2 linked regions of the Homo sapiens genome follow. The protein of the gene in region 2 purifies or fractionates together with the protein of the main gene of each other region. This does not show direct contact. Each region holds a gene or a part of one and is shown on either strand. Other genes may lie near its edges.

The links.
Region 1: the proteins of EML3 (region 2) and KLHL12 purify together in Homo sapiens (co-immunoprecipitation; one large-scale study listed by IntAct). This does not show direct contact.

What each region holds. Positions count from the first base shown.
Region 1 is NC_000001.11:202,920,735-202,924,387, reverse strand, and holds part of KLHL12 (kelch-like protein 12), read left to right. Parts: intron 1-3,653. UniProt on the Homo sapiens protein: Substrate-specific adapter of a BCR (BTB-CUL3-RBX1) E3 ubiquitin ligase complex that acts as a negative regulator of Wnt signaling pathway and ER-Golgi transport.
Region 2 is NC_000011.10:62,606,158-62,609,810, reverse strand, and holds part of EML3 (echinoderm microtubule-associated protein-like 3), read left to right. Parts: intron 1-114; coding exon 115-182; intron 183-333; coding exon 334-457; intron 458-678; coding exon 679-849; intron 850-1,005; coding exon 1,006-1,075; intron 1,076-1,158; coding exon 1,159-1,269; intron 1,270-1,514; coding exon 1,515-1,610; intron 1,611-1,989; coding exon 1,990-2,145; intron 2,146-2,711; coding exon 2,712-2,853; intron 2,854-3,596; coding exon 3,597-3,653. UniProt on the Homo sapiens protein: Regulates mitotic spindle assembly, microtubule (MT)-kinetochore attachment and chromosome separation via recruitment of HAUS augmin-like complex and TUBG1 to the existing MTs and promoting MT-based MT nucleation.

The DNA.
Region 1 (3,653 bases), on a different chromosome or scaffold from region 2:
CCACATCCCACTCCTCCTAACAATATGTGAAGAAAATCAGTGTAAATTTTAGGATAACTTCAAATGAAAGGAAGAAGAGTTTTTAATGAATAGCTGTACAGGCGTTGAGTGTATAACCTGAGAAAGGATGTTAACTCATAAGCACTTAACAAAGGGAATTAGGAAAAGGTTGGCTTGAGAGAATACAGGTAGTGCTCACAAAGTATTAAGAAACACTACTTAGTAATTGCCTGACAAAATACTTGAAATGTATAGTAAGGCTGCTGAATATATTGTGTTGAATATTCTTAGAAAGCTGAACAGAAAATAACATTGCAAATCTTTGTTTTTCAAGATCCCAAGTCTCATTTTAAGAGCAGATTTAAATAAATTATCTTGATTTATTTTTTCAAAGCTCAGTTGTGGGTGCATCACTGTTTATTATATAATTTACACTTACATGTATGCCTGAAATATTTCATTATGAAAACACTGTTTTAAAAGTCTTTTTAAGCACAAGTTTTTTGTTTGTTTTTTGTTTTTTTTTTAGTTAGTTCTATCATCTTAGTGTAGATATTGCTGCTGAATCAGAATGGGAGAGGCGTATTCTGTGATGGTAATAACTACCTTTTATGGGCCAGGTACTGTGCTAGTAATTGTTGTGCATATCTGACTCACCCTAGGGGTAGGTATTACCATCTCATTTTACAAATGAAGGAATAGGGTTTCAGATATTAAATCACTTGCCCAAAGTCCCATGGCTTGTAAGTGCTAGAGGTGGGATTTCATTTTATATTTTCCAACTCTAAAGCCCAAACAGTTTGTAACTCTTGTGCCGCCTTAGCCTCCGAAGTATGAATTTTATATACTACAATCTAATTTTAAAACTGGTATAGTTAAAAATACTATGAGCCAATGCTCAGTCACATGGCTAGTAGGGAAAACAGGAACCTGACAGGTCATTCCAACTAATTCAGGCTAATTTTTAAATAAACTTGTGTGATATACCAAGGCAGATCCCTGTCCTATACTGTTCTCCATGAGATATACCCAAGATCATCAGAAGCATTTGGAATTTAACTGGGTAAAGAGAGTGTCACCCAGCAGCTGCTGAGCAAGAAATGAACTAGAACGGCTGATTGCTAATTATATGTTGTGCATCCTGTTTTTTGTCAGCTTGAAAATAGTGTCTTTACTCTTTTGTTATTTGGAAATGAATTCTTTTTTTCTCATCAGTGATGATTTCTTTCTTTAAAAACTGACATCAGGCAAGGAAATGCTAGATGGTTTTGTCTTTATTTTTGAGAGTAATTGTTCAAAGGAGAGAGTCCAGAGACCTGGATTCTAGGCTTAGTTCTCTTAGCAATTCTGTATAAACCCTGGGAACCATCTAACTTCACTGGGTTGATCTGTAAAATAAAGTAGTTGAACTAGATGGTTTCCTTGTTCTCTTCAGCTATGAAATGCTCCTCAAATGTCATCTGATTGAAAGATCACAAAGACTGAGGCAGGAGGACCTGGGTTTTGTCTCTCTCTCTCTCTCTTTTTTTTTTCCTGAAATACTTTAATAAGAATGATATCTGTCTCTTACTAGCTAAGTGACTGGTTAAGTCTTGGATCTTCAGCTGGGCGTGGTGGCTCACGCCTGTAATCCCAGCACTTTGGGAGGCCGAAGCAGGTGGATCACGAGGTCAGGAGATCAAGACCATCCTGGCTAACACGGTGAAACCCCGTCTCTACTAAAAATACAAAAAATTAGCCGTGCGTGGTGGCGGGCGCCTGTAGTCCCAGCCACTCGGGAGGCTGAGGCAGGAGAATGGCGTGAACCCGGGAGGCGGAGCTGGCAGTGAGCCCAGATCACGCCACTGCACTCCAGCCTGGGTGACAGAGCGAGACTCTGTCTCAAAAAAAAAAAAAAGTCTTGGATCTTCTTTGATCTTTAGACCCTTTATCGCTCTCTCTTTTTTTTTTTTTCCTTGACGCCTGGCTAATTTTTTGTATTTTTAGTGGAGACGGGGTTTCACCATGTTAGCCAGGATGGTCTCGATATCCTGACCTTGTGATCCACCCACCTCGGCCTCCCAAAGTGCTGGGATTACAGGCTTGAGCCATGTGCCCGGCCCCCCTTTATCTCTTAGATAGTAATAATATCAGACCTAACTACCTTACCAGGTTGCTGTGAGAATCAGATGAAATAGTAGTAAATGAGAAGCATGCTGAAAAATTCTAAAGCAAAATATAACTGTAAAATGTATAATTGCTCTAAGTTCTTACATAGTGAAATTGTTTCCATATTTAAACTATTTGATGGAAATGTAGTTTATTGAATGAGAAATTTCTGGAATACATGTACTTACATATTTCAGTACCATAATTATTAAATGCATTTAATGTGTTGGGATAGTAATTGTTTATGAATATTAGTACTGTATTAAATGTTAATAAAACCTAATATGTTTTTTCAAAATAATGTGCTAGTGACTTTTTTAGTGTTAGGGATTGATTTTGTTCTTGGCTTTGGTAGAGAGTGCTTTTTGGTTATTCTCTGGCTGATGGAGAAATAAAAAACGTTAAAGCCATTTAGTTAATAATGGAGATGCACCAGAGTTTTTTAAGTAAAATGAATTTCTAAACTAAGATTAAGATCTAGTAAAATTTTCATAAGGTATTTTCAGATAGTTTCCTGTAAAATTGAAGATTTCTTCTCTTAGCTAAACAGTTTTCTATGATTATCTGGCCTCATCAATACTCATAGCTTCAAGAAGATATACTACTAACAATTTAGACTAAATATACTGCTAACAATTCAGTTAGTCTAACCCAATATTTTGAAAAAGTAACAAATAATTTATTTGTATTCAGATGATGTTACATAAGAAAGTCCCTTAGGATGACCTGCATGTTCTTTTTCGTCATTACTAAATGCAGTCTAAGGGCCGGGCATGGTGGCTCACGCCTGTAATCCCAGCATTTTGAGAGGCTGAGGTGGGCAGATCACTTGAGGTCAGGAGTTCAAGACCAGCCTGGCCAACATGGTGAAACCCCATCTCTACTAAAAACACAAAAATTAGCCAGGCATGGTGGCATGTGCCTGTAGTCCCAGCTACTCAGGCGGCTGAGGCAGGAGAATCGCTTGAACCTGGGAGGTGGAGCTTGAAGTGAGCCAAGATTACGCCACTGCACTCCAGCCTGGGCAACAGAGCAAGACTGTGTCAAAAAAAAAAAAAAAAATTAGCTGGTTGTAGTGGTGTACTCCTGTAATCCCAGCTACTTGGGAGGCTGAGGCACGAGAAACACTTGAACCTGGGAGGCAGAGGTTGCAGTGAGCTGAGATCACACCACTGCACTCCAGCCTGGGGAACAGAGCAAGACCCTATCTCAACAAAGGGGAAAAAAAAGTAGTCTAAGGACAGATGATAGGAACTAGGTAGTCCTGGAGAGACTGGAGTTATAACCCACAGGCTCCTCTACGAACATGAAATTTCTTTGAAATATTGTGTCTTATCTTAAAAGTTCACGGACCAGTGTTATGTTCATGGAACTTTTGCATTCTATTCTGTAAATACATCTGTATTTTAATATGAAATAGATTTTTAAAGTTATTCACTGGCAAAATTACTATTCCAGGAAGGTGTTACCTATTACTTATTCCTGGCGTATAGATAACTACCTAC
Region 2 (3,653 bases):
GGCTTGCAGAAGTGACTGTGGTTTCTGCAGTGACCTCTTTTCTTGTGTCCTGCCCCTCCCCGCTTAGGTCTTGGGACCTGACCCCAATCCCTGTGCTTTCTCTCTTCCCAACAGCCGTGGGGGAAAAGACCCCCTCTCCAGCCCTGGGGGCCCTGGATCTCGGAGGAGCAATTACAATTTGGGTATGTAAAGAGGGACAGAGAGGAAAACTTGGATGGCAGGGTTAGGATTTGGGCTGTAGCCCCAGGAGCTATTTTGGGTAGGTGTGGTGGGTAGGGTTCTGCTCTGTCTTTCCTGGAAGGGGGTAGTTGACACCACCCCTTTTCTCTGTAGAAGGCATCTCAGTGAAGATGTTCCTTCGAGGGCGCCCCATTACCATGTACATCCCGTCTGGCATCCGCAGCCTTGAGGAGCTGCCGAGTGGCCCACCGCCAGAGACCCTCAGCCTTGACTGGGTGTATCCTGCCCCTTCCAGTCCCATGAGAACCACCTTTCTCACCTTGGGACCCCTCTTACCTTTACAGTTTCCTCCTGGGTCTGTGGGGACAAGGAGCCTTCTAGATCCTCTCCTACCATCATTCTGCTCTAGGCCCTGCCAGCCAGAAGCTCTGTCTTTCTCCCCTCTTCCTCCTCCTGCCCTTGATCTAACCCTTTCCTTGACCGTGATCTCCACCCCAGTTATGGGTACAGGGGTCGTGACTCCCGCTCTAATCTGTTTGTGTTGCGCTCTGGGGAGGTGGTCTACTTTATCGCCTGTGTGGTGGTGCTGTACCGGCCTGGAGGAGGCCCAGGGGGTCCTGGAGGTGGCGGCCAGAGACATTACCGGGGGCACACAGACTGCGTTCGATGGTGAGGAGTCCGGGGCTGGTGGGCTTGGCAGGAAGAGGGTCTGGGGGGATGGAGAAGCAGGAGAAAAGAGTTGCCTTGCTGCTCTGCAAGCTTGGAGAAGGTGTCTTGGATGGTCTTGAGAGACCCTTTCCCTAGAGTGTCTTCCCCCTGCCTTAGCCTTGCTGTTCACCCTGATGGTGTTCGGGTAGCCTCGGGACAGACAGCTGGAGTGGATAAGGATGGAAAGGTAAGGCCAAAGTCAGGGAGCAGGCAGACATGCTGGAATTGCACTCCAATTTTGCTTCACACTTGTGACTCTTCCTCCACCAGCCCCTGCAGCCTGTGGTTCACATCTGGGACTCAGAGACGCTGTTGAAACTGCAGGAGATTGGACTGGGGGCCTTCGAGCGGGGTGTTGGGGCCCTGGCCTTTTCAGCTGCGGTGAGCTGGCCCTGAAGCCTCTAGACCCCCATTCTTGCCTAGGAACCCCACTCTTGCATGTCACCAGGAAGCCTTGGAAGTTCTGGCCTTCCTGAACCCCACCCAGCTGGTTCTCTTGAGAAAGGGCCATGTGTGTCAACTTTTTCTGCCCTCTCCATCTGTGATGGTACCTCTTAACCTAATGACCATGAACCCCTGGACCTCCAGGGTTCACTCTGCACCTCCTATGTGTCACCCTTCTTCAGGATCAGGGTGCCTTTCTTTGTGTGGTGGATGATTCCAATGAGCACATGCTGTCGGTGTGGGACTGCAGCCGGGGAATGAAGCTGGCTGAGATCAAGGTGAGGAGTCCATGTGGCTTGGAGGGGCTCTGAGGTTGGGGGTGGGAGTGGTGGAGTGCAGGGAGCTCCAGACTCACCCATACATTTCCTTCCTTTTTGGCTGGGTCACATGGGGCAAATCTCCTAGCTTCTCTGACCCTTAGTTTCTTCATTTGTGACATGGGTTCTGACCTCATGAGGCATAATGTGTTAGGTATTAGGGTGATTAATTATGATTGACAGGAAATAGTGCTCTTAGGGGACCAGGGTTTTGAAAGAAGGGTTGTCCTGGGGTTTCTGGACCTCTGCCAGCCAGCTGTCATGATGCAAATTGAGGAGAGTCAAGTAGAATGAAGGTACCCAGGGCTTGGGGTGGCTGAATCTAGTGTCTTCCCTTCAGAGTACAAATGACTCAGTCCTGGCCGTTGGCTTCAACCCTCGTGACAGCAGCTGCATCGTCACCAGTGGGAAATCTCACGTCCACTTCTGGAATTGGAGTGGTGGAGTAGGGGTTCCTGGGAATGGGACCCTTACCCGGAAACAGGGTGTCTTTGGGGTGAGGCATGGATAAGTGGAAGGTGATGGGGAGGGCAGAGTGGAAGAGGAAGCACTGGGCTGAGTACTATGGACCCTGAGGTTCCCTAACCCCCACCTGCCCCTGTGACCTTTTTTTTTTTTTCTTTTGAGACGGAGTCTTGCTCTTGTCACCCAGGCCAGAGTGCAATGGCAAGATCTCGGCTCACTGCAACGTCTGCCTCCTGGGTTCGAGCAATTCTCCTGCCTCAGCCTCCCGGAGTAGCTGGGATTACAGATGCGCGCCGGCTGATTTTTGTATTTTTAATAGAGATACGGTTTCATCATGTTGGCCATCATGCCCGTTTTTTTTTTGTTTTTTTTGTTTTTGAGACAGTGCCTTGCTCTATCACCCAGGCTGGAGTGCAGTGCGGGATTTCACCATATTGGCCAGGCTGGTCACAAACTCCTGGCCTCAGGTGACCCGCCCGCCTTGGCCTCCCAAAGTGCTGGGATTACAGGCATGAGCCACTGCACCTGGCCTGCCCTGCGACTTTTAATCTTTGCCCTTCCCTTTGACCTCTACTGTCTGCTCTCCCCTCCCACTAGAAATACAAGAAACCCAAGTTTATCCCTTGCTTTGTGTTCCTTCCGGATGGAGACATTCTCACTGGAGACTCAGAGGGGAACATTCTCACCTGGGGGCGGAGCCCTTCAGATTCCAAGACCCCAGGCAGGGGTGGCGCCAAAGGTATGTGGCTGGGAGGGGCATCTGGGAAGTGTAGTACTCCAGAGGTTCTGTGGGAACAGAGGAGAGGGTTTCCCATTCCCATCTTTTTTTTTTTTTTTTTTGAGATGAGGTCTTACTCTGTTGCCCAGGCTGGATTGCAGTGGCGCGATCTTGGTTCACTGCAACCTCTGCCTTCCAGGTTCAAGTGATCCTCCTTCCTCAGTCTCCCAAGTAGCTGGAAGTACAGGCACACGCCACCACGCCCAGCTAATTTTTGTATTTTTAGTAGAGATGGGGTTTTGCCATGTTGGCCAGGCTGGTCTCGAATTCCTGACCTCAGGTGATCCGCCCGCCTTGGCCTCCCAAAGTGCTGGGATTACAGGCGTGAGCCACGGCGCCCAGCCAGGTTTCCCACCTTTTTACCTTGAGAGTTGATAGTTCTCTTGGGGGCTAGTCTAGAAGCGTGTGGGCAGCACAGCAAAGGAGAAACGGCTGGAGCTTTGTGTTTGCCAGATCTCAGGTTCAGATTCCAGTTTTGCTATTAGTTGCCTTGCCTTTAGGAAGTTACCTCATTTCTGTGAGTCTCAGTTGTCCTGTTTGTAAAATGGGGAGAATAACAGATGTGTTGGCAGTATGAGGATGAGACATAGTAGTCAGTGCATGCAATGGCTGGGAGTTCTTACTGTATTGCGACAGCCAAGCTGGCCCTGTTTCTCACTCCCCTGCACCCCCAAAACATGATCTACCTGGGGCTTTGCCAACAGAGACCTATGGGATTGTGGCCCAGGCTCACGCTCATGAAGGTTCTATCTTCGCCTTGT